Linked DNA regions of Homo sapiens: all the other regions are linked to region 1. Evidence: fine-mapped expression QTL. A gene starts in region 1. Each other region holds a variant in brackets. All regions are shown on one strand. Distances are between the middles of the regions.

The links.
Region 2: its variant is fine-mapped to the expression of GPR55 in whole blood (TOPMed, PIP above 0.99).
Region 3: its variant is fine-mapped to the expression of GPR55 in whole blood (TOPMed, PIP above 0.99).

Annotation. Positions count from the first base shown.
Region 1 is chr2:230,921,384-230,929,608 of GRCh38, reverse strand. It overlaps GPR55 (G protein-coupled receptor 55), which reads left to right and starts at 4,367. Exons shown (of 2, transcript NM_005683.4): 1 at 4,367-4,441. RefSeq lists silencers at 73-202, 2,931-3,110 and enhancers at 3,331-3,560, 4,381-4,430, 4,551-4,670, 4,234-5,022.
Region 2 is chr2:230,972,052-230,980,276 of GRCh38, reverse strand. No RefSeq gene overlaps it. Among named protein-coding and RNA genes, the nearest start is that of SPATA3-AS1, 20 kb to the left of the region's middle. RefSeq lists enhancers at 3,159-3,208, 4,313-4,432, 5,847-5,986, 6,107-6,156. The variant G/C (reference allele first, on the strand shown) is at 3,372.
Region 3 is chr2:230,897,590-230,905,814 of GRCh38, reverse strand. GCSIR (GPR55 cis regulatory suppressor of immune response RNA) reads right to left here. Exons shown (of 4, transcript NR_038238.1): 4 at 1,298-1,426. Among named protein-coding and RNA genes, the nearest start is that of GCSIR, 15 kb to the right of the region's middle. RefSeq lists silencers at 3,278-3,337, 3,408-3,487. The variant T/A (reference allele first, on the strand shown) is at 3,487.

The DNA of each region.
Region 1 (8,225 bases):
AAGCTTGGTGGCTCTAAAAGAATTGGCTGGATCATGACAAGAACAGAAGGCACAGATATCTGAGCATCTGCAACCTTCTCCTGTAACCTTGATGTTACATTTCCAGTGAGTGACAGAGGGGCACGTGGGGTGACATGGGAGGGGAAGGCTGCATTCTGGACAGTTGCTGCCCCCTTGCGTGTTTTACTCCCTTCTGCCTTGACATTAAGCATCACTGACCTCAGCCACCATGGGCCCACTTTCAAGGAGACATCTTCAATTGCTAAGGGGGATTATCAGGGCCCCGAGTTGGGGGGCTTGGGGGCACGCACCTTCCTGTCTTTGTGAGCACCTAGGGGGCAGGGTGTCAGTCCTCAGGGACTTGGCAAAGGCTCCAGGAACGGGCTTCGTGTGGTATAGCACCCAGCTGACCGTGCAGGGGAGTCATCCGGGCTCAATGTTTAAGTGGGGCTTGGTGGCCGGATGCAGTGGTTCACACCAGTAATCCCAGCACTTTGGGAGGCCGAGGTGGGGGATCGCTTGAGTCCAGGAGTCCGAGACCAGCCTGGGCAACATGGCAAAACCCCATCTCTATTTTTACAAAAAATAAAATAAAATAAAGAAGTGGGGCTTGGGAACAGAAGTGTTCCCGGCAGAATGGGAGGGGAGAGGCCAGATGGGGAGCCATAGGATGGGGCCTGGGGCAAGTCCCTGCCTAGCCCAGCTCTTGGAGCTCAACCCTTTGAGTCTGTCTCCAGGCCGCACCTGGAGGGTTGGAGCAGAGGGTGGGGGCAGGTGCTGCTCATCTTCCTCTCTTTGCCTCTTCTTCCTGAGTTCCCCTGCCTTCCTCTCTCTGTTGGGGCTTCCTCTGATTTTTAGGACCCCTTTTCCTTGGATCATGAGGGTCTCATTATCAATGTTCCTCCTTTTTTTTTCTTTTCCTTCAAATAGACCCAGCAGGGGAGACAAAGGCAGGCATAAATCAACGAGGAATGGGGGCCTCAGTCACTGCTTGAGTACCAGGCACTTCCTGGGTACACTTACCCCTGTTACCATGCCGACTCCTAAAACAACGTTTTCTGAGACAGGTACTGTCATCTGTCTTCACCACCACTGCCTGGTCCCTAGGAGATGATCCACAAACATTTTTTGATTGAATGGATGTGTAACTCCAATTTGCGGCTGGGGAAATGGGCTCAGAGAGGTTAGGCAACCAGCCCAAGCTGACAGAGCTGCTTTGTGGGGAGTGGCGGCCAGAGACCTGCTGAGGCTATCTTCAGAGTCCGGCTGCCTCAGATGCCCTGGATCCTTCTTTCAGACACTCTGACGCCCCCACTCCTGCCCTCATTCCTTCTTGTTGCTGCTGGTGCCCTCATCCCAACCCAACCCCTGCTGCCCCAGTGGGTCTGTCACATGCTGCCCCTGTGCCAAGCGTGTGTTCCCTGGGACCCCGGGGCGGCCCGTGCCCCTGGTTCCTGCCTGGCCAGCTTCCAGCCTCGGCTCCTGCCATTCCCCCCTTACCCTGGTGCAGAGGGTGCCCGGGCCCTCACCAACCCCGTGCCCCTCCTGCCTGTGCCTGCACCTGGGCTGCCCTCCTCCAGCATCCTCCTCCCTCCCCGTGTCTCTTAGGGTTCAGCTCTTGCCCCTGCCCCTGTTCCCTGACCAGCTCTCTGGGGCAGGCTTGGGAGCACTTCTTGCACAGCTCTGGGCCAAGTGGTCACCCTGCAAACCCCCTGGTGGGCAGGTTTCCCCCCTTGGAGGGAAAGGATGCCCCACGAGGGCAGGGCCAGGCCTCTGGCTGCTGAAGGAGCGAATTTCACCAGCGTCAGGGGAGGATGTGGTGAGCGCCCAGCTATCCTGGACCCGCTCTTTGATAAACACAGTCAGATTCACTTGTTCCTTGCCCTAGAAGAAGCTGGTTCCTGAAGCTCCGAAGCTGCTCCACTGGTGAAGTCGAAGGTGTGTGCCCCCAAACCCCCCAACTCGGGGCTCCCAGCCTGGAAGACAGGCAGGGACCTGCCCAGGCTCCCAAAACCTCCAAGTGATTCTGGATGGTGAGAGGGTGGGCAGGACTAGGGGGAGAAGTTTCAGGAGGCTTAAGGGAAATTTTCTGAGAAAGGTCTTCCTATTTATGACTCCCCAGGCCTGTGGCAAGGGGAGGCGAAAAGCTCGAGGGACAGGCCTGAGCCTTAGGACGGGGCCTTGGGCGAGTCCCTGCCTAGCCTTGCTCTTAGGAGCTCAAACCTTTGAGTCTCTCTGGAGACGTATCTTGGCAAGGGATCCCCCATATACCTTGGATATCCCCCAAGGTATCCAAGGGATACCCACAGGAGAGGGAGGTGGACAATGCCTTCTACTGCAGAGCAGCTCGTGTGGTCTCTAGCTTCTGTGTCAAAAGAGGGAGAAAATAAGAGCTCAGGTGTACACGGGCGGGCACAGAAACTCTGGAAGAAACTTAACAGTGGTGCCCTGGGGGGTAGGTGAGAGCTGGATTTAGGAGTGGGACAGATATTTTCCTATATGTGTTTACATATGTATTTGAATCATGTGCATGTTTTCAAAAATTTAAAAATTTAAAAATTTTAATATTGCAACAGCAATAAAGTAGAAATATTCATTTCTTAAAAGAAGGTAGCCAGGGCCGGGAGCGGTGGCTCACATCTGTAATCCTAACACTTTGGGAGGCCGAGGTGGGTGAATCACGAGGTCGGGAGTTCAAGACCAGCCTGACCAACATGGTGAAACCTTGTCTCTACTAAAAATACGAAAAAAGTTAGTCGGGCCTGGTGGCACAAGCCTGTAATCCCAGCTACTCAGGAGGCTGAGGCAGGAGAATCACTTGAACCCGGGAAGTGGAGGTTGCAGTGAGCCAAGATAGTGCCACTGCACTGCAGCCTGGGCAACAGAGCGAGACTCTGTATCAAAAAAAAAAAAAAAAAAAAAAAAAGAAGGTAGCCAGAATGGGAGTAGACAAGGCTCCCTTTGAGAAGGGGCTGAGCAGAGACACTGCTCCCTGCAGGCCACTCAGTGTGGATGCCTTCCTGGGGCCTCACATTGCAGGCTCTGGGTATGGAGGTGGGTGCCAGACACCGGTGTGTTTCCTCCCTGCTACTGTCCCAGCAGGCTCCTGGCCTCCTCCCGCACCCAGGGTGCGGGCCTGGCTGCCCCCCCTTGCCCAGTAGCCAGCCTTTGGCTTAGATTGGGCTGGTGGCCCAGTAGGGGGGCCTCGCTGGGGGCAGGACTGCCCTGTGCCCTGTCTTGGCACCCAGGCCAGCTTGGGGCTCCACGGCCTGGAGCAGGCAGTGGACTTGGCACTGCCCATCGCACAAGCCCAGGTGAGAGCTTAAAAGTTGTCATGGTTCCATCAACCTCTTCACCAGACAGTGGGAAGACCCAGCTCCAGAGGGCCAGGTGGTTCCCCTGCAGTGACTTGCAAGGTGTTATTTACAGAGGGGACCCATGTGTTGGATGAATCATCCAAAAAACCCAGGAGTAGTTTCTATTCCTGTAGACACCTGAAAGTCCCAGCACGCATAGCTTTTAAAAATTGCTTGTGTTTGGTCCTCCGACAGGGCCTCCCAGCACCTCCAGGGCATGAGAGCTGCATCTGCCGGGGTAGTTTCAGCCCAGACTTTCCTGATGGGCTGGAATCTATGAGGGCTCCCAGCTAAGAGCCACCCAGGCCCACGGGTGAGTCTCAGCCCTCCCAGCCCTGAAGGTGGGAGATGCCAGGGAAATCTCTGCTTGCAGGGCCCTAGGAAGCCACAGGCCCAAGGCTGCCCCAAATCTCTGTGCAGGCCTGGGACAGAGAAGCCGAGGCTGGGGAACCTGTGGGGCCCCACTGACCATTCTTGCAGACACACATGCAGTGGCTGAGGTCTCCTCCGACGCTAGGCACGCAAGTCCTAACCTGCAAGTACTAAATAGCACCACCTTCCTTTCCTTTCTGTGGGCAGCAGTTTCAAATCCTAAACCCCCAAAGTGCTGGAAGCCACGACGGCCCTTGGCAGGTGCTGAGAATGGCTGCCCCTGTGTGGTGCCCCTGTTAGGGTGTCTGGGGTGCGTAGGAGGCTTCCTCCTCCAGAGGCTTCCCAGGGCTTGACACATGCAGTGTGATTTTTGGCTTTTTGGTTTTTTGTTTTGTTTTTTGGAGCTGCGGGAGGGGGGCGTGCAGATCTTCCAAGAGGGCGGGAGAGTGTAGACCCTCCTCCTGGAAACTGCTCCCCATGTCCACACTCTAGTTCCACACAGCCTCTCTGTAGACCCCAGAGCAAGAGCCCCTAAGCCAGACAGGGTGACACTGGAGCGGCTCAAAGAGCATCTGGTCCCACCCCTTTATTTCACTCACAAGGAAGTCGAGACCCAGAGAGGGGAAGTGACTCTCCCCAGAACAGGCTGACAGCCAGGCCTGGAGGAGAAATGACATCTCTCAGCCCTCTCAGCTGCACCGGACCACCAACAGGTAACAGCCTCTGGGCCATTTAGAGAAACTAAGGCACGGAGCCTCCAACCTGACCTTGCTCTTGTGGACTGCAGGTAACTCTCCTAAGATCAGTGGGGCTTGTGTGGGCCTGGGCTTTGTGCACACCTGTCCCAACTCAGCGAGCAGTCCCAGGTGTCAGGGCAGCGGCAGCCTCCAGGCAGCCTCCGTGACAGCAGCAGCGGCAGGCAGACCTGGTTTGTCCCCGATTACGAGTGACATTTTTCTACGAACCCTCAACTTCCTCCTGATCTGACTCAGGGTTGCAGCATCATGTCGGGTCGGGAAACCTCCCCATAGGCAGCCTGGGAGCCTTCCCGGGGCATGTAGCTCACGTGCCACCGCCCTCCACCAAGCCCGCCGCCCATTCCCCAGAATCTTGTTGGGAAACCACCAAGCGCCCGAGATGACACACTCTCAGGGATCATCCTGCAGCCCTGAGCAAGTGCTTACTGGGGACCAGAAGGAGCCTGGGAGCCCAGGCTCACCCACTCACCAGCTGCGTAATTTCTCTAGCCTCCGTTTACCTCTCTGGGGCATGAGGCAATACACGGTTTCTTCCTCACGGGGCGCTCAAGGGCAGTAAATGATGGAGAGGAAAGCCCTGGTTGCTATCCTACATTATAGCTGCATTGTTCTCTAACCCTAGCCAAGTGTCTCTTGGAGAGGCTGGGCGGGAAGACACAGCAGCACTTAGAACCCTGAACATTCTAGATTCTTCCCTGAGAGTGAGAACACAAAGTCAGGACATGTCTGGCTGGCCTGGCTTCACCTGGGCTTTGTGCTGCCCGAGGCAGTGGGGATGAGAGGACAGGGCAGGGCAAAGTGCCGCCCACAGCTCTGTGGAAGGCAAGGTTTGCCTTTGGTTCTGAGCGGCTGTCCCAGCTGTAAAGGGAGCACCAGTCACTGTGGAGCTGCAGCAGACCTGGCCATTTGTTCCGTCATTTCTTCACCCCCTCTTTCATGCAATAAGACCTTCCCAACGACAAACTGTATGTGAGGCTCGGTGATAAAGGTGAAAGGGACATGGTCCTGGTCCTGGGGTTGCTGGAGGACAGCAGGGACACGCTCCCCCTGGGATACACAGAGGACTTTTCAAGGCACCCACTCAGGACTGCACTGGGAAAACCACATCAGATGATGTGGGTGAACCTGGGAAGTGGGCATTTCAAGGAAGAGGTGGGATTTTTAGCAGTGGAGGAGAGAGTCCAAGGAGAAAGAGGAGCATGAGCATGCAAAGAAGTGAGGAGGGGGCTTGGCAACTCCTGGATCCCAGATGCTCTTGCTTGTGATGCTGATGGGGGCCAGGGTGAGCGAGGAGGAGAGACTCAGAACATGAGTTCCAGCTGGTCCCTCACGGCCTTTTTGACCTTGGGTAGAATCTTTAACATCTCTAAGCCTTACTGTCCTTATCTGTAAAATGGGCATAATTAGGGCAATCTCCTAGGAGTGTCCTGAGTTCCCATCGTAGATCACTGAGCACACTGCTGGCCACCTTTCACGTCCCCAAGCCGGCCCCTCCCCTCTCCCAGCCCCACTCCAACCCCCCAGCCCAAGCTCCAGCAACATTCAGGCATTGGGGAGATTGTGGTCATGTGCTCTGTCCCCTCTGTGTCCTGTTCCTTCTTCTATCGTGGCCCCCAGAAGCCCAGCTCAGGCACAGGCGGATGACTTTATTCACACTATGGTGTTACTGGTGGATACGCTGTGTATTCTAACTGCGGCATTTTTGGGGGAGTATTCCAGGGCTCCTCAAATCCATCCCTGCGGCTGTGCCAATGCTGCTTTTTTAGGCTCTGGCCCTGCCATCTCTGAGGTGGCTCACGCTGCAATGCTCTGTGCAGATAACAGCCTGGCAGCTGCAGGAAGGGCCACCTTCTCAGTTGCAACCCTCCTTAGGGTTGTGATCTTCTTGTTGCTTGTGTTCTCTGGAAAGTCCAGGCCACAGAGGGAAGAAAGGTAGGTCTGGTGTGGAGCCACATAGCTGGGTTTCGAGGTCTCAGCTGTGCAGGCAAAGCCACAGGGCTGCCGCAAGTGGGACACTGGATCCTTGAGGGTGTGGGCGGATGAGGGTACCATGGACCACTGGCAGTTGCGGGAATCCCAGCTGCAGAATGTGTAGAGTCAGCAATTAAGAACCAGCACAGGCCGGGTGCTCGGGCTCACGCCTGTAATCCCAGCAGTTTGGGAGGCAGAGGCAAGAGGATTGCTCGATCCCAGAAATTTGAGGCCAGCCTGGGCAACACAGTAAGACCTTGTCTCTACAAAAAATAAAAAATTAGGCCAGGAGCGATGGCTCACACCCGTAATCCCAGCACTTTGGGAGGCAGGTGGATCACCTGAGGTCGGGAGTTCGAGACCAGCCTGACCAACATAGAGAAACGCTGTATCTACGAAAAATACAAAATTAGCCGGGCGTGGTGGCACATGCCTGTAATCCCATCTACTCAGGAGCCTGAGGCAGGAGAATTGCTTGAACCTGGGAGGCAGAGGTTGCAGTGAGCCGAGATCACACCATTGCACCCCAGCCTGGGCAACAAGAGTGAAACTCCATCTCAAAAATAAATAAATAAATAAAAATAAATTTTAAAATCAAAAAATAAAAAATTAATTGGGTATGGTGATGCATGCCTGTAGTCCCAGCTACTCGGAGGGCTGAGGTGGGAGGATTGCTTGAGCCTGGGAAGTTGAGGTTGCAGTGAACCTCAATTGTGCCACTGCACTCCAGCCTGGGTGACAAAGCAAGATGCTAACTTAAACAAACAAACAAATCAGCACATTGAGGCCAGGGCTCCGGGCTCGGGGCTGAGCAGGGCCTTGAGGATGGAAGAAATGAGACGGAAACCCCCAAGCAGAGGGAGCCAGGAGGAGAAGCAAGGCCTCTGTGCTCCACCCCAGTCCCTTTCCACACGTCACATACTTTCTCTCCTTTTCACCAAACATTGGAAAACAGCCTTATATTGAAAGGAGATTCTACTTCAGGGTTAAAAATCAACAAACAAAAACACCCTTCAGTAAGACACGGCTGTGTGCATGAATTCCCTCTACAGCACCCTGGATAAGCACATAGCCCTGCCTTTGCTTGCATACCTCTGGTGACAGAGAGCCCTCCACATGACGAGGCTGCTTTGCTTTGTCTACTCTCAGACACTCTGGCTGCGAGATAGGTTTGCTTTCTGCAGCACCTGGAACCCATTCCTTTTCTGACCCTGTGAAGTCTTATGGTGGAACACGTCACGATCACTGGAGGATGGATGACCTTGTGCCTTTCCCTCTAGGGATTAGGAGCATCTCTAGGCCTTTCTGCATCTTCTCCCATGCTGTGGTTCCCTAGCCCCTCCGAGTTCAGCCCCTGCAGACAGACAGCCTCGGGTCCTAGGGTGATCAGAGCTGTGCATTGGCCATGGTCACTCCCATTCCACTTCCAGGATCTTTGAGTGTAGCCTTGGCTCACCTCGTTTCTCCCTTTCATGTTTAAAAGAACACTTAGGAATTCCCACTTTCCTTAAAGTGGTGACTGCGTTTGTGTTTTGTGTATAAATATTGTTTCTTTACAATATTTCAGCAATGTACGTCTGATTTTGTCTCTGACTCACACGTGAAGAGCCTGTGTAAAAGAATGCATAGAAATGCCTGTATTTTTAATATGGCACTGCAGCTAAGTGGTCAGGACCAACAAACAGCTATTTTCTTTGTGGTCCGAGAATGAGGAGTGTAAAATTGCCATTGCCTGTGCTCGGGAATGGGGTAAATTTTGTGAAAGACA
Region 2 (8,225 bases), 51 kb before region 1:
TCAATATCACATCTGGAGTAAATAATGTCAGGCATCACAACTGGAGTAAATAATGTCAGTATCACATCTGGAGTAAATAATGTCAGTATCACATCTGGAGTAAATAATGTCAGTATCATATCTGGAGTAAATAATGTCAGTTATCACATCTGGAGTAAATAATGTCAGGCATCACATCTGGAGTAAATAATGTCAGGCATCACATCTGGAGTAAATAATGTCAGGCATCACATCTGGAGTAAATAATGTCAATATCACATCTGGAGTAAATAATGTCAGTTATCACATCTGGAGTAAATAATGTCAGTTATCACATCTGGAGTAAATAATGTCAGTTATCACATCTGGAGTAAATAATGTCAGGTATCACATCTGGAGTAAATAATGTCAGTATCACATCTGGAGTAAATAATGTCAGTATCACATCTGGAGTAAATAATGTCAGTATCACATCTGGAGTAAATAATGTCAGGCATCACATCTGGAGTAAATAATGTCAGGTATCACATCTGGAGTAAATAATGTCAGTATCACATCTGGAGTAAATAATGTCAATATCACATCTGGAGTAAATAATGTCAGGTATCACATCTGCAGTAAATAATGTCAGTATCACACCTGGAGTAAATAATGTCAGGCATTACATCTGGAATAAATAATGTCAGTATCACATCTGCAGTAAATAATGTCAGTTATCACATCTGGAGTAAATAATGTCAGGCATCACATCTGGAGTAAATAATGTCAGTATCACATCTGGAGTAAATAATGTCAGGTATCACATCTGCAGTAAAAAACATCAGTATCACATCTGGAGTAAATAACATCAGGTATCACATCGGGAGTAAATAATGTCAGTATCGCAACTGGAGTAAATAATGTCAGGCATCACATCTGGAGTTAATAATGTCAGGCATCACATCTGGAGTAAATAATGTCAGTATCACTTCTGCAGTAAGTAATGTCAGGTATCACATCTGGAGTAAATAATGTCAGGTATCACATCTGGAGTACATAATGTCAGTATCACATCTGGAGTAAATAATGTCAGGTATCACATCTGGAGTAAATAATGTCAGGCATCACATCTGGAGTACATAATGTCAGCCACTCTTGGTCATTCTGAGTTTGATCACTAATCCTCACTCTGCTTCCCCTTTTGTAAGTAATTTTTAGAATCTTCACATGGTCACAGGATTAACTGAATATCCAAGTCACCAAACAGTTTTGGCAACTCTTGGTGATGCTTACCTGAAGGAAGCATTACATTGGAGGTTGGAAAATGGTAGTTTTTCATTCTTTTATTCCTGCTACATTTACTAGCTGGCCTTTTTTTCTGTAAGAATTTCCAAATCCCACTATATTAAAAACATTAATCACTGTGGGTTCGTGGAGTTTTAAAAATGCTATAATTGAAACTACAGTTATTCATTTTGATGTTCAAATCATCCCACATTTGAGCAGTGGGAGCCCTCAGGTCAGCTCCTGAATCCTTTTGACATGATCACATTTATCTTCCAAAACTGTTTTGCTTTCTGGTGTGACAAGAGATTCCATGCTCACGTTGTACATTTTCACCCCTGACCTAGAATCTACCATTTCTCTAACGAGCCCTGGTGCCTTTAGTGGTGAATGGTATAGAGAAAGAAAGAACCTGGTGATATATGCGATCATTGCTACTCGGCTGTCATTCAGTGGACAGGATTAGAAAACTCATTTTAAAAAAAATTACAAGTTCAAACTGATATATTTCCTACTCAAATTTAACATTACAGTTTTTCTTTCACTTCTTTACTGACTACTAGTATCTTTTTTCCCCGTCAGTAAAATATATATTTGCTTATTTGCTTTCCACTATACATGCACAAAAGAGTTTCAGAATTACAAGACCAATATTACTGCTAACAGTAAACATACTAAATAGAAGTTTTTCTATAGTTCTTCTGTTCTTAGAACAGATCCTTCTCCACAATCAGAGTGTTTGCTCTGTGTGGTTGTGGTATCAGTTTGAGGCGTTATCAGTTTGATTTCCTTCTTTTGCATTCTATTGTAGGGTATTCTTTATCCCACCTTTTTAACATTTAATTTTATTTTTAAAATACGTGAAACATTTATGTAGTTAAAAAGTAAAAATGGGTTGAGAATAGTGGCTCACACCTGTAATCCCAGCACTTTGGGAGGCCGAGGTGGGAGAATTGCTTGAGCCCAGGAGTTTGAGACCAGCCTGGGCAACGTAGGAAGACCTCATTTCTACAAAAATAAATAAATAAATAAATAAATGAATAAATAAATAAATAAATAGCTGGGTACGGTGGCGTGTGCCACTGGGAGGCTGAAGCAGGAGGATTGCTTGAGCCCAGGAGGCTGAGGCTCCAGTGAGCCACTGCACTCCAACCTTGGTGAGAGAGCGAGACCCCGTCTCTGAAAAAATAAAAAAATAAAAAGTGACAATGATATGAGATATACAAGAGAAGCCTCACTGCCGTTCCTATCCCTTCTACCCCATTCCTTCCCACCTCCACGGTGAATGCCTTCCATTAGTGTCTGTTTAATACTGTATTTCTTTTCACAAAAATAACACATACACGTATTCATTTTCTCTTCTTTCCATATGAAAGATGGTATAATATATATCCTCCTTTGCATCTTACCCCGAACCTCATTATCCGTTCACACAGACCTCTCATGCTCACATTCATTCCTTCCCATTTCAGAACATTCTGCTGTCACATGGAACCTGTTCAGGGTTGGTTTTTGTCTAATCTATATTAATGCTAGTTATTTCAGAAGACCATGCAATACCCGTGAAAACTTCCCCTTCGCTCTCAGAAAGTTTGCACAAAAATCAACTCACAAAAGGCAGGTTAATTAGATAAAACACTATGAATTTATTTTAACGTGTCAAGCATGGGGAACTGTAGCAGAGTGATTATTCGATAACCCAGCGGGGTACATATGCTTATATACCCTTCTTCTTAGGGGAAAGGGAGATGGGGCAGTGTGGATGATTTTAGTTTAAGTGATTTTTAGAGAAATTCAATGGGCTTGAAGAACATACAATGGCCTGGGACAAAGTCTGTTGTGCCTGCAGAGTATACAACGGTTTGTGACAAAAGTCTGCCTAGCTGTGTTGATAGATGTCAGTCTTTCTTCCTGGATATGAGTTCAGTTCATGAAAATTTAGGAAGGGACCAGGAGTAATTGTTTTCTTCTTTAGTGAGTCTGGGCTTTAGGCAGATAAGGGAACTTCAGAGAACAACCTCATTCTGTGCTTTGAGAGAGACAGACTGAGACAGAGGCGGGGGTTGGGGGAGGTCAGAGAAATCTTGTGGCTTCTTCTTCAGTTCAGCATGTCACAGAGCCATATTTGG[G/C]GGTATTGGTTTCTGAGCCCCAGTCTCCATGATACCGGCTCCTTTTGAACTGGCATGACCTCTGGATTCTGAGAGTGTGAGAAGGCAATAGGGCGAAGGTCCAAATAAGGGTGAAGGACACAATGCAGGCTGTCCCCTCCTGTCTGGCCTCTAGTGTTCTTGTGTCTCTTGGGACGTGCGTGGCTTGAGAGATGGGTTTGCGGAGAGGGGCTTTGCCACTGGAGGATTATGAAGTGTTGCCAGGAGAGAAGTGGTTTCTGTGCCAAACACTTGCCTCACTCAAAGTGTAAACTTTTCAAAAATTAAGGCACAATTTATATAGCATAAAATTTGCCACTTTAACCATTTATTTTTCTTTCTTTCTTTCTTTCTTTCTTTTTTTTTTGAGACAGAGTCTTGCTCTGTCAGGCTGGAGTGCAGTGGCGCAATCTCGGCTCACTGTAACCTTGGCCTCCCGAGTTCAAGCGATTCTCCTGCCTCAACCTCCCGAGTAGCTTGGATTACAGGCATGCATCACCATGCCCAGGTAATTTTTGTATTGTTGGTAGAAGTGGGGTTTCGCCGTTTTGGCCAGGCTGGTCTTGAACTCCTGACCTCAGACGACCCACCTGCCTCGGCCTCCCAGAGTGCTGGGATTTCAGGCAGAGCCACCGCACCCGGCCCACTTTAACCATTTTAAAGTGTACATCCAGTGGCTTCAGTACGTTCACCGTCTCATTCAACCATAACATTTTTATCACCCCCAAAGGAAACCTCATACACATTAAAAAACCACGCCCCATTTCCCCCTCCCCCAGGCCCTGGCAACCACCAACCTACTTTCCGTCTCGAATGGATTTGCCTATCCTGGATATTTCATACATATGAAATCATACAATATGTGTCCTTTTGTGTCTGGCTTCTTTCACTTAGGTTCATCCAAGCTGCAGCATGCGTTGGTAGTGCCTTCTTTTTATGATGAAATATTCCGTTTTATGAATGTACTACAGTCTAGTTTATCCATTTACAGCTTATGGACAGCTGGGCTGTTTTTACATTTTGGTCACTGTTTTAACCTGTGTTTCTATTCTTCTGGGTACATACTAGAAATGGGACTTCTGGGTCATATGGAAACTCCATGTTTAAATTTTTTTTTTTTTTTGAGATAAAGTCTCACTCTGTCACCCAGGCTGGAGTGCAGTGGCATGACCTCAGCTCGCTGCAACCTCTGCCTCCCGGGTTCAAGCGATTCTTCTGCCTCAGCCTCCCGAGTAGCTGGGACTACAGGCATGTGCCACTACGCCAGGCTAATTTTTGTATTTTTAGTAGAGTCGGGGTTTCATAATGTTGGCCAGGCTGGTCTCGAACTCCTGACCTCGTGGTCTGCCCGCCTTGGCCTCCCAAAGTGCTGGGATTACAGGCGTGAGCCACTGCACCTGGCCCCATGTTTAAATTTTTGATGAACCAACAAATTGATTTCCACATCAGCTGCACCGTTTTACATTTTTCACAAGCAAAGTAGGAGGGTTCCGGTTTTCCCACATCCTTGCCAATGGTTATTTTCCATTTAAAAAATTATAGTCATCCTCGTGGGTGTGAGGCGGTCAACTGTTAATACCCTTTTTGACACAAGCTTCGGGTGTCAAAAGATATGCTCTAATGCTGCCCTTTGGCTTCACGAGGCTACTTAAAGCTTCCAATTTCCTGTAAATCATATTAGACTTTGTTATTGTTACATTAACTTGGTGATCCAAGGGACTCATGGCTGTAGGGGGGCAATCCTGTTATATTCTAAGTGCTGTGGTTTGAATGTGTCCCCCAAAGTTCATGTGTTGGAAACTTAATTGCCAGTGCAACAATGTTGAGAAGTGGCACGTTTAAGTGGTGATTAGGTCATGGGAACACAGCTCTCATGAGTGGATTCAGGCCATTATTGGGGTACTGGATTAGCTGTCACAGGAGTGACTTAGATATAAAATCAGGGAATTCTGCCCCTCTTTCCTTCCTCTCGCGTGTGTTCTCTCTCACGACGTGATGCCTTCCGCCATGGGATGGCCCTCACTAGATACCAGCACCACGCTCTTGGACTTCCCAGCTCCAGAACCATGAGCCAAATAAACGTCTGTGCCTTGTAAATTACCCAGTCTGTGGTATTTTGGTATAGCGGCAGGAGATGAACTAAGACACTATGCATGATGTTACCCTGAACATTTGCATGAAAACAGCTCTTTACATCACATAGCCACACTCAGAATGTGTTATGGGAATACAGAAAAACAGAGGTGGGGAGACGACATTAACTGTGGTGAGGGGGTGAAATAATCCTTGGGACCAGTGACCTTTAGGGGTCTTTTAAAGTGACTTGTGTGCTCAAAATAACTGGCCCGGGCCTGCGGAATCCGGGCATCCTGACAAAACCACATGAATGAGGAGAACGGCACTTTTCATGACCGGCCCCACCAGGGGAATTTTTCAGGCACGCATCTTACTCTGATGCTCAGGTCAGCTGGCTACCACTAGTGAGCCCAGGCCCAGAGGCTGGGGCACCCCAGTGAGTCAGAGCCCAGATCAGGGAGGGTGAGAATTACCACTTCCTGTCTATGAAAAACACTTAGATAAATGTCGGTTCCCACCATGGCTAAGAATCAAATAATATTCTTTCTTCGAGCCTCAACCTCAAGTGCCTGACAAACTCTTGAAAAACCCAAGGCACTGCCCAAAGTAGTTTACACGGGGAGGTCCAAGGTGGTTTCCCTATGGCTGGTTGATGATGTTAATTACGGTATTTTTCAGGATTGGCAGTCAAGCAGATGTTATTAACATTAACTAATTAATCCAGGTCTTATCGCATGTCACCTGACGCCAAGTAAAAGCACCAGAGAAGTTTGGAAGTGGAGAAATGCCACAGGGTGGATCAGGAAAGACAGGACAGAGGAGGGGCCATTTGTGTAAGACCTACCTGAAAGGATAGGTGGAAGGGGACAGTGGGAGGGAAGGGGAGGATTGAGGCAGGGAGGTAAAGGTGCCACCCCCACACAAGCATGGAGCAATGCCAAGTGTCCCAACATAGAATGGACTTCTGGATACATCCACTTTATCCCAAAATTATTATGACAATGTGATCAAAAGAGAATATTGTGGCCAAAATGTTAAAGTTTGACATTCCAGAACAGGAATAATTATATCTTGGCACCGTTCATGGTGACATTTCTTCCATAGCTACTGTACTGAATATTTACCAGGCGAAGAAGACACTTTCAACTGAAGTAAGTGGAGAAGTGACTATTTTGGGGAACCCCCAGGCTACCTAGGGCAGTCTCTTTAACCCCTAGGATCGAGGTGTAGTTATTAAAAGCATCCACTTTCATTGCCCAAAGTGTCCCAGTTTAGACAATAAACTATATGGTCACTCTATTTATCATGGATTTTAAATTATTTTTAAAAATTGTGGTAAAATAGACATAACCTAGAATTCACCATTGTAACCACTGTAAGTGTTGAGTTCAGTGGAATTAAGTTATGTTCACCTAGTACAACCACCACCAACTCCCCATCCCCCACTTCCCCCAGCTCCTGGCAACCAACCATAATCCTAATTTCTATGTCTATGCATTTGACTACCCTAGGTACCTCTTTAAGTGGAATCATACGGTATTTTTCTTTTTGTGATTGACTTATTTGACTTAGTATAATGTCTCCAAGTTTCATCCATATGAGAGCATGGGTCAGAATCTCCTTCCTTTGTAATGTTGAGTAATACTCCACTGCGTGTGTATTCGTCTGTTCTTGCATTGCTATAAAGAAATACCTGATACTGGGCCAGTCACGATGGTGCATGCCTGTAATTCCAGCACTTTGGGAGGCCAAGGTGAGAGGATCACTTAAGTCCAGGAGCTCAAGACCAGCCTGTGCAACATGGTGAAACCCCATCTCTACAAAAAATACAAAAATTAGCTGGGCATAAGCCGGGCGCAGTGGCTCATGCCTGTAGTCCTAGCACTTTGGGAGGCCAAGGCAGGTGGGTCACGAGGTCAGAGGATTGAGACCATCCTGGCTAACATGGTGAAACCCCGTCTCTACTAAAAATACAAAAAATTAGCTGGGCGTGGTGGTGGGCGCCTGTAGTCCCAGTTACTCGGAAGGCTGAGGCAGCAGAATGGCGTGAACCCGGGATGCGGAGATTGCAGCAAGCCCAGATTGCGCCACTGCACTCCAGCCTGGGCGACAGAGCTCACTCCGTCTCAAAAAGAGAAAAAAAAATTAGCTGGGCATAGCGGCCCATACCTGTAGTCCCAACTACTCAGGTGGCTGAGGTGGGTGGATCGATTGAGCCTGAGAGGTCGAGGCTGCAGTGAGCTGTGTCATGCCACTGTTCTGCAGCCTGGACAAGAGAGCAAGACCCTGTCTCAAAAAAAGGAAAAAAGAATAAAAAAAGACATACCTGAGACTGGGTAATTTATAAAGAAAAGAGGTTTCATTGGCTCTCGATTCCACAGGCTGTACAGGAAACATGATGCTGGCCTTCTGCTTGGCTTCCAGGAGGCCTCAGGAAACTTACAATCATTGCAGAAGACAAAGTGGAAGCCAGCACTTACCACGTGGCCGGAGTAGGAGCAAGAGAGAGAGGGGGGAGGTGCGGCACACTTTTTAAACAACCAGATCTTGTGAGAACTCACTCATTACACAGTACCAAGGAGGGATAGTGCTGAACCATTTATGAGAACTATGCCTTCATGATCCAATCACCTCCCACCAGGTCCCGCCTCCAACACTGGGGGTTATAACTAGACAGGAGATTTGAGTGGGACACAGATCCAAAACTATATCAGCAATTTATCAATGGATAAACACAATGTGTTATCCATTCATCCATTG
Region 3 (8,225 bases), 24 kb after region 1:
GACAAAACAGACGTCCCTCTGCCCCACTGCAGGCCTGAGCGCTCCCTCCCAGGCCAGGAGCCTGCAAGATATGACCTCCTTGCAAAGCTGTTGCAGAAAAGGCCACATGGTGCCTCAACCATGAGTCACGACAGAAACGTGGCCCTTTGTGCTTTGAAGTCTCGTGAGGTAGGATCAGAAGCACTGTCACTTCAAAGCCAGACGCGGCTCTGGTTCACTTTTGAGGCTTCAGATGACAGCTTTATTCCGGAGGCCCACGCCTGAGTGAGTGTAACAAAGACGCTGCCTGCAGGGGGGACCTGCATCTCCACCGGGGCCAGCACAGTTATGCAAAGGCTGCTTAGGGTGCAGACAGATGTCTCCAAAAAGCCTCTCTTCTCAGTAGGTGGCTTTGGGCTGTGCGTAGTGCAGATGAGAATGCATACACACGTGTGCGTTTCTCGTTCAAGTGGTGTCTCGGAGCGGCTTGCCGGTGGAGGCCACACAGAGTTTAGGAAAGTTGTGCCAGAGTTGACTAGATCTGGCTAAACCCAGATTTTCCAAACAGCCGATTCCCCAAGTCAGTGCCTAGTGCATTTCAGACGGAATGACCCTGACTGGGGAAAACTGATGTCCAATGACCCAGTGATCGCTGTGTGAGCCCCCAGCCAAAGCACAGTTCTGGGAGTGGGTGGAGGGGTTTCCCTGAGGGCAGTGGAGAAGCCTTGAGGCCAGTGGGCCTGGAGTGGTTAAGGAGGGCTCCAGAGGACCGGCTCAGGGTGGGACATGTTTGTGGGGATGGGTCTCCAGACAGCATTAGGTAGGTGGAGAGACCTCTCCCTCCCCAAGATGGGCCACGCGTTGCTGGGCACTGGGCACTGGGCACTGGGTGTGGCCCCCTTCGGCAGTAGATACCAGCCTCTTTGCTGTGGATTTCCTTCAGTTTCCTAAATCTTCAGTACCAACTTCAAGTCGCAGCCAGGGCACAGCTTTCACCAAGGGGAATCAGTATGAGCTTTACAGCAGAGCATGAGACCCAGAGATGCCTGGAGGGGGGAACCCACAGAAAATAGGACTTCCCATATTAATGGAGTGTGAGGAGCAAAGTCATTATTCTCTGAGTATTATTAAAGGGTATATGACCCCAAAGACAGGACTATTTCAATTATATGAACAAAGTGGGATGAAATTGATGGTTAAGAGATCTGTCAGCTATTGATATTTCTTCCCTGGGACTTTACACTGCAAAAAACACCCATATATGGCAAGTATGTTGTCAGTCTACCTGAGCTGCCATAATAAAACACTGCAGACTGAGTACCTTAAACAACAGGAATTTATGTCCCACAGTTCTGGAGGCTGGAAGTCTCAGATCGAGGTCTGGCAGGGTCAGTTTCTGGTGAGGCCACTCTTCCTGGGTTGCTGATGACCACCTCCTCACTGTGTCCTAAGAGGCAGAGAGAGAGGAAACAAACTCTCTGGTGTCTCTTCTGCTAAGGACATTAATCCTACAGGATCAGGCCCCACCCTTACTTCATTTTACCTAAAAGCCATGTCTCCAAATACTGTTACACTGGGGGTTAGGGCTCCAGCATGTGAATTTTGGGGGGGACACTTCAATTCACAGGAACGGCTTCTAGGCTAACCTGGAGTAGAAGTCACACTTCTCTTATTTCTTCAAATTGAACGTAACTTGCCCTAATTCACCAAGGTTTACTGGAGGATGCTCCAGCTCCATTTCACTGGATCCCTTCCGCCCCCAAGATCCTGCGCGGGTCCTAGCTGGGGCATCCCTTGATGACTGCACTGTTTGCAGAGAACCCTGGGTTTCAGTCCACACTGGTCACAGCCATGGTGCCCATCGAGGACTGGGCCTTTCAACAGAGGCATCCGTATGACACTTGGGCACGCAGCTCACTCCTGCAGGCCCCAAGCCCTCCGCGTTAAATGCTCTCGCACCTTCATGTCTGAGGCTCCTTCAGCAGAATGCTTGTCTGGGCTCTTCTTGGGAACCACAGTAGCCCTGCACCTTCCCCGGCTGACCTTTGGACTCACAAACCTAGCATCCTTTTCAGGTAGGGCTTTAGGCAGCCTCTGAGAATGATGAAAGCTCTGGCACTAGGTCTTTTGTTTTGTTTTTCCGTTTGTTTGTTTCGTTTTAAGACAAAGTCTCACTCCTGTCTGCCAGGCTGAGTACAGTGGCATGATCACAGCTCACTGCAGCCTCAACCTCCTGGGCTCAAGGGATCCTCCTGCTTCAACCCCCTGAGTAGCTGGGACTGTAGGTGCACACCACAATGCCTGGCTAATTTTTGTATTTTTTGTAAAGACAGGGTCTCGCCATGTTGCCTGGGCTGGTCTTGAACTCCTGGGCTGAAGCAATCTACCTGCCTTGGCCTCGCAAAATGTTGGGATTACAGGCGTGAGCCACAATGCCCAGCAGGCCATGGGGTCTTAATTCATCTCGTGCCATCGATCCTCCTGCAGTCAGGAGGAAGCCTGTGGACCTTCCCCAGAAGGGCAGTTTCACATGCATCAAGTAAAAATGCATGGAATTAGAGAGGAAACCAGATATATGGAAATGTAGTCACCAACGTAGCAATATATGTTTCTTTAGGCACTGGATAACAAGATCTAGTGATGGGTTTAATGATTATCATAATTTTGAATTTATGATGAACTGAGAAGTTATTTTGAATTATCTGCAGCAACTGTAGTGGGATATGAGAGTATCTGTGATGTCTATTGGTGACAAGTCCCAGGAACCACACCATCTATCGTACTGTGGTGTGATGTCTACGTGCGTAATGGAAGGAAATGCTACCTTCAGTTAGTGATTAGTGAAAATAGCATGTAATGTTTTCCCTCAGCAAGTTCATGACACCCGTGAATTCTACTCCTGATCCCCAGGTTGAGAACTTTTGGGTTAGGCAGAGACATAAGGAACCTGGGCACAGGTGTTCTTCCTCTGGTGAAGGATCATTTGTGTGCCCGCTTTGTTATGCAAATGTGAGCCCCCAGGGTCCCATCCTCTTCCTCTTGGGGTTTGGGCTGACCCAGGACCTTTGTTTGTGGGGCTTAGAGAAGCTGGCCGGCCCTCTTTGTATGCCGCACTATAGGAAGCAGAGTCCCAGGGCCCTCTGAAAGCAAAGACACCCATATCCCAGTCCCCAATCTCAGAGATGCAAAGTCAGGGATACCTGTCTAGGAGTTGTAGGGCAATCCAAGAATCAGTGGCAGGGGCAAGCAATGAGGCCCCCAAAATAAATCACCTTGTGTTAAGGGGGATCTCAACTGATAACACTGTTCTGGCCAGCATGGAACGTGGCTGATACTGGACACCCCTTCAAACCCAGCCGCCCTGCCCCAGGAGCTATGCTTTGGGAAGGGATGGCCGAGTGTGAAATGATAACTAAGAAGAGTCTTAAGCCTGAACCTCAACCACCAAGGGCATCCCAGCGTCTGGGGCAGCAGCGTCCCTCCTTGAGACACCAAGCTGCAACAGTG[T/A]CACCTTGTGACAGCTTGGAGAAACAGCAGCAGGGGCTGATGGAACCCTGGCTCTCCTCCCTCAGGTGTGGAAGCAAAGGAGGTCCCTGGGGTCTTTGAGTAATTTGGGGGCAAGTCTTCTGCCTAAAAGACCCATAGGGAAAAATAAATTAAGCAATAAAAGAAATTTGACCATTTTGTAATCTAAGTTGGTGAAGTAGGTCATACCAGTTTCACCATCATCATCGTCTTATATGATATTTTATTACTATTACTGCCTCCTGGCATGTATCTATGTAGTAAGTTCCACTATCAGAGGATGACCTTACCTACCTTTATGGTTTTGTTTTTGTTTTTGTTTTGTTTTTGAGACAGAGTCTTGCTCTGTTGCCCAGGTTGGAGAGCAGTGGTGCTATCTCAGCTCATGGCAACCTCCGCCTCTCGGGTTCAAGTGATTCTCCTGCCTCAGCCTCCCGAGTAGCTGGGACTACAGGCACCTGCCACCATGCCTGACTAATATTTTGTATTTTTAGTAGAGATGGAGTTTCACCCTGTTGGCCAGGCTGGGCTCAAACTCCTGGGCTCGAGTGATCCTCCCGCCTCAGCCTCCCAAAATGCTGGGACTACGGGTGTGAACCACTGCATCCGGCTCCCTAACCTTATGTTATAAAAGTTCTCATGAAAGTACTTGGGGTCACCTAATTGTCACCCCATCAAGCATCTCCAAGGCCCAACCACTCCCAGCAGATTCTGCCTTTGACACGATTGTGAGTCCTTTTCCCAATTCCTAATCCCCTCCTGTGGTATCCCCTGTCCCCACCACTGCAAACTACCACCCTTCTTCCAGCTTGCAGCCATCTCTCTCCTCCTGCTCTTCATCACCTGCTCTTAGGGGTCAGTTGCCTCTGGTATAACTTCTTGGCCAGGGTTGTTCCTCCAAGGACTATATACATTGAAACTGGGAGCAAAGCTGTAGTTCAAACCAAGAGAGAAACGCTTTTATAAATACTGTATCTCCAGTGACTCTGAAATTGCGGCAAACAGGCTGCACAGGTGGGGTCCAGCACCGACTTCCCAAGGCTGCACTGCATCTGAAACCAACCAAACCAGGTGAGGGGGTGGCATAAGGGAAGGAGCACTCCCTTGGCAGGATGGGGCTGGGGGGTGTTTCTGGTTGCTGTGCATTACCATCCATCTCCGTCACCCCTGGCCTTCAGGGAAGTCTCCCACCAGTTCTCCCTGGAGTCAGCTGTCCTTTATTGGAGAAAGAAAGGGGGAATGTGCTCCCTGTGGGCTCAGATACACGTGGAGGACAGTTCCTGTAGGACTCAGGGCTCAGAGGAGAATTTGGCAGTTTCTACGACTATGATGGGAGATGCTAGGGTTCCCACTGAATGTGGGATAAAATCACAAGCCCTTCTGCTTGGAGATTTAAAAAGGGGGGGTGACCCCATAAAGCTGGAGGAGTTGGGGCTAGAAACAGGTCTGTAACAAGACCTTGGCTTGAAGGGAACTATTGTGCAGACGTGGAAGCTGAGGCCCATGGGGGCATGAGCAGCACCAGCTCTCTGATGCCCTTGTAAGTGATTTTTGCATGGCACCCCATGCTAACACCCACTCTGGGTCTCTGTGTCCTGGCCCACCGTACCCACTCCAAAATCCTCTCAGGGCTCTTCAAAGATCCTGAGCCATCAAGGGGCGACCCATCTGCTCCCCAGTAGGGGCTGTCACAAGCCCACCCACTGGCTTCCACTACTCAATTGCACCTGGTCGAGAACAGGCTTATTCTCTCCTTGTCTGTTACACCTCATTTGGTCCTCCCTTGCACCGGTGTCCTAAGTAGAAATGCTCCTTCTTAATCACCTCTCACAGCAAGGTCTCGTGGCTCCCGTCCACCCTGTGTGCCTGGCACAGGCTGGGTGCAGAGCAGAGCTGATAAATACCTGGTGATTGACAGCTGCAGTCATCACCACTGCCCCAGCCCTCGCTTCAGACCAGGAAGCAACCGCAGGCTCAAAGACCCTGGGTCCTGGCCCCATAGCACCAGCTAATAATAACAGACAGCTAGGGGCTTGCTCCAAGCCCCTTATACCTGGCTGTGTGCAGAAGCCCTCTGGTAGGATTGATGATAATGCCGGGGTTCCTGGTGTGCCCCAATCACCAGTTAAGAAGATTCTCATATTTCTCTTAAGGTTCAACTAACAACTTTAAGTCCCTCAATATTATGAGAAGGGGCACTTGCAACTTAGATACAATTTCCAGTGATAGCATCATGTGGGGATTTAAAAAGTGCTGAATCTCTGTAACTGAGAGGAGACGGAGGTGACGTACCCTGAAAGTCACCGGTGACTCAAACCGTGGCTCAGGGGTGATGAGGAGACAGACACTCAAGATGCTGGTGACAGGTTGAGATGAAAAAATGTTCCATGAAATGTGAAAGTGGAAAGGAGTTACCTTCTGTGGAATTAAAAGATGTCTTGAAAACCAAATGCATTAACTCCTACAGGAGACATTTAAACAATTACATGCACAACCCTAATAGTTTGTATATTCAAGCTGGATCTTCTCACTTGGAAAAACAATCTCTTCTGTATGCGCATCTTCTTAATGGCCCACTGGGAAATGCCGTATACTCAGGGGTGCCCTGGGTTTGGGCATAGATGATGTACACCCCTAGTTCCTGGTGAAACCCAGGTCTGGGTGAATGGAGCAAATCCAGATCCTTCTAATGGGATAGGGAAGCAGACTGGCTCCTGTTCCCTGTCACTGAGTGATCCAAAGGACCAAGGCCAGGGACCCTTGCACCAAACCGTGCTGTCAGATTCTGTCTGCCAGCGGGGGAGCCCAGGGAAGCCCAGGGCCGCTGCAGTCACCTCCAGGCAGTGCACGTTGCTCAGCAACCTCTTTGCAACTGTGAGCTGCTCCACATCCCTGCGAAGAGCCTTCTTTTGCTTGAATTAGCTGGAGCTGGTTTCTCTTGCAGGGAACAAAGAAGCTTCCTGTTAGCAAAATGAAGTTTCCTGCTTCAGCAAGAGAAAGGCTCCTTATGGGGAGATGGGAGAGGGGAGTGGGAAGACAGAGGCCCTGGGTATGGGTGCTTGGAGATTCTCTCTTTCCTGGGGGTGAAGGGGAAAGGGAGAGGGAGATTGTATGGCCAGACCTCTTCCACAGCCTTAAAACAGGGATGTAAGCCCTTTTGACAATTTCACTTGAATTCCTTGGGAAATACCAGGTTAGGGTGTTTTCTTGGATGAAAACTCGGGTGGTGCAGGCAGCAAAGCCCATCATCGACGGCCCCAGGGAGCCACGTGCAGATTCTTCCCTTTCCTGCAGTGTGCCCTGGCCTGCAAGGCCCTGTCTAAGGACGCTGGGGTGGACTGAGGCTGCCACAGGAGGGCATGGAGGGTATGGAGGAAAAGGAAAGCTGCTTGATTCATCGGCATCTGACAAAGTGTTCTGTCTACACCATGCCTGCTGCACGAGGCACCTGGTCAGATGTTGGCCCTTGCTGCCCACTAAAGGTCAAAGAGGTGATGGGGATCCCCCTTCCCCACATCATCCCAGGAATTCTCTGACTGTCCTTGGGTCTCTCTGGGAAGACTTCTCGGAGCCCCTGGCCCCAGCTGGGGGTCCCTCCTCTGTGATCCCATGGCACCCTAACTTTCCACAAGGAACTGGGGTGAGTGAGGGTCTCTTGAGTGCAGGGAGCTCATTCAGGTTTATTATGGAAGCTGGGTGACAGTGATGGTTGCATGGTTGCACAACTTTATAAATTTTCTAAAAATTACTGAATTGTTAAACAAGAAAGAAGGAAGCAAAAGCTGTTTTGTTGAAGGATGTACATGGAAATAAAGAAGACAGGACTCTCAGCTCCGTGCAAGCCTGCCCGGGTCCCAGGACAGGCTCACAGCAAGACCTCCCGGGAGGTCCCCATGGGGCCTGGAACACGGCTCAGGTTTGGAAGGGCTTGAGGGTCCAGGGAAGTCTATTGGCTCTGCTCTATCCTTCCTGCCTTTCGGTCTCTGTCTCCTACCACCGTTGTCCCAGCTGGCGGCCACTATCTCTGCTGGCCTCTCCACCCGTGTCCATCACTGGCAGCCTGAGGATGGGCTACCTGTGAATCACGTGCTCCTCCCTGGTCCAGTCAACCACGGCGGAGGAGATGGGGCCATGTGAGATGCCGCCTATGGGGCCGCCTGGAGCTGCTACCTTCAGCAGGGGCCTGGCAGGTGCTCTGAGGCTTTGTGTGTTTTTCTCCACCTCTGTGCCAGGAGGCTGCTGCCCTTCAAGTCTTGTGGGGACACAGTCATGTCCATTCACACTGTCTGCAGTGGCTGCTTTGGAGCTACAGCAGACCACGGTAGTTATGACAGAGACTGTATGGTTTGTAAAACTGAAAACACTTGTAATCTAGCCCTTTGCAAAAAATTTCCCTAATGCCTGCTCTGAACTATAAACTCTTCAGGGAAGGGACTAGGTCTTGTTCATCTCTGGATCTTCAGAACTTAGCAGAGTGTCAGACACATAGTAGAAGCTCAATAAATTGTAGGAGCTCAATTAAATAGATAAATAGATGGAGTCTGGGCTGAATCTGTGCAGTCTATGTCCTTTACTTTAAAAAGAGGCTTCCCGGCCGGGTGCAGTGACTCACACCTGTAAGCACTTTGGGAGGCCAAGGTGGTAGGATCGCGTGAGCTCAGGAGTTTGAGACCAGCCTGGGCAATGTAGTGAGACCTTGTCTCTATTAAAAATAATAATAA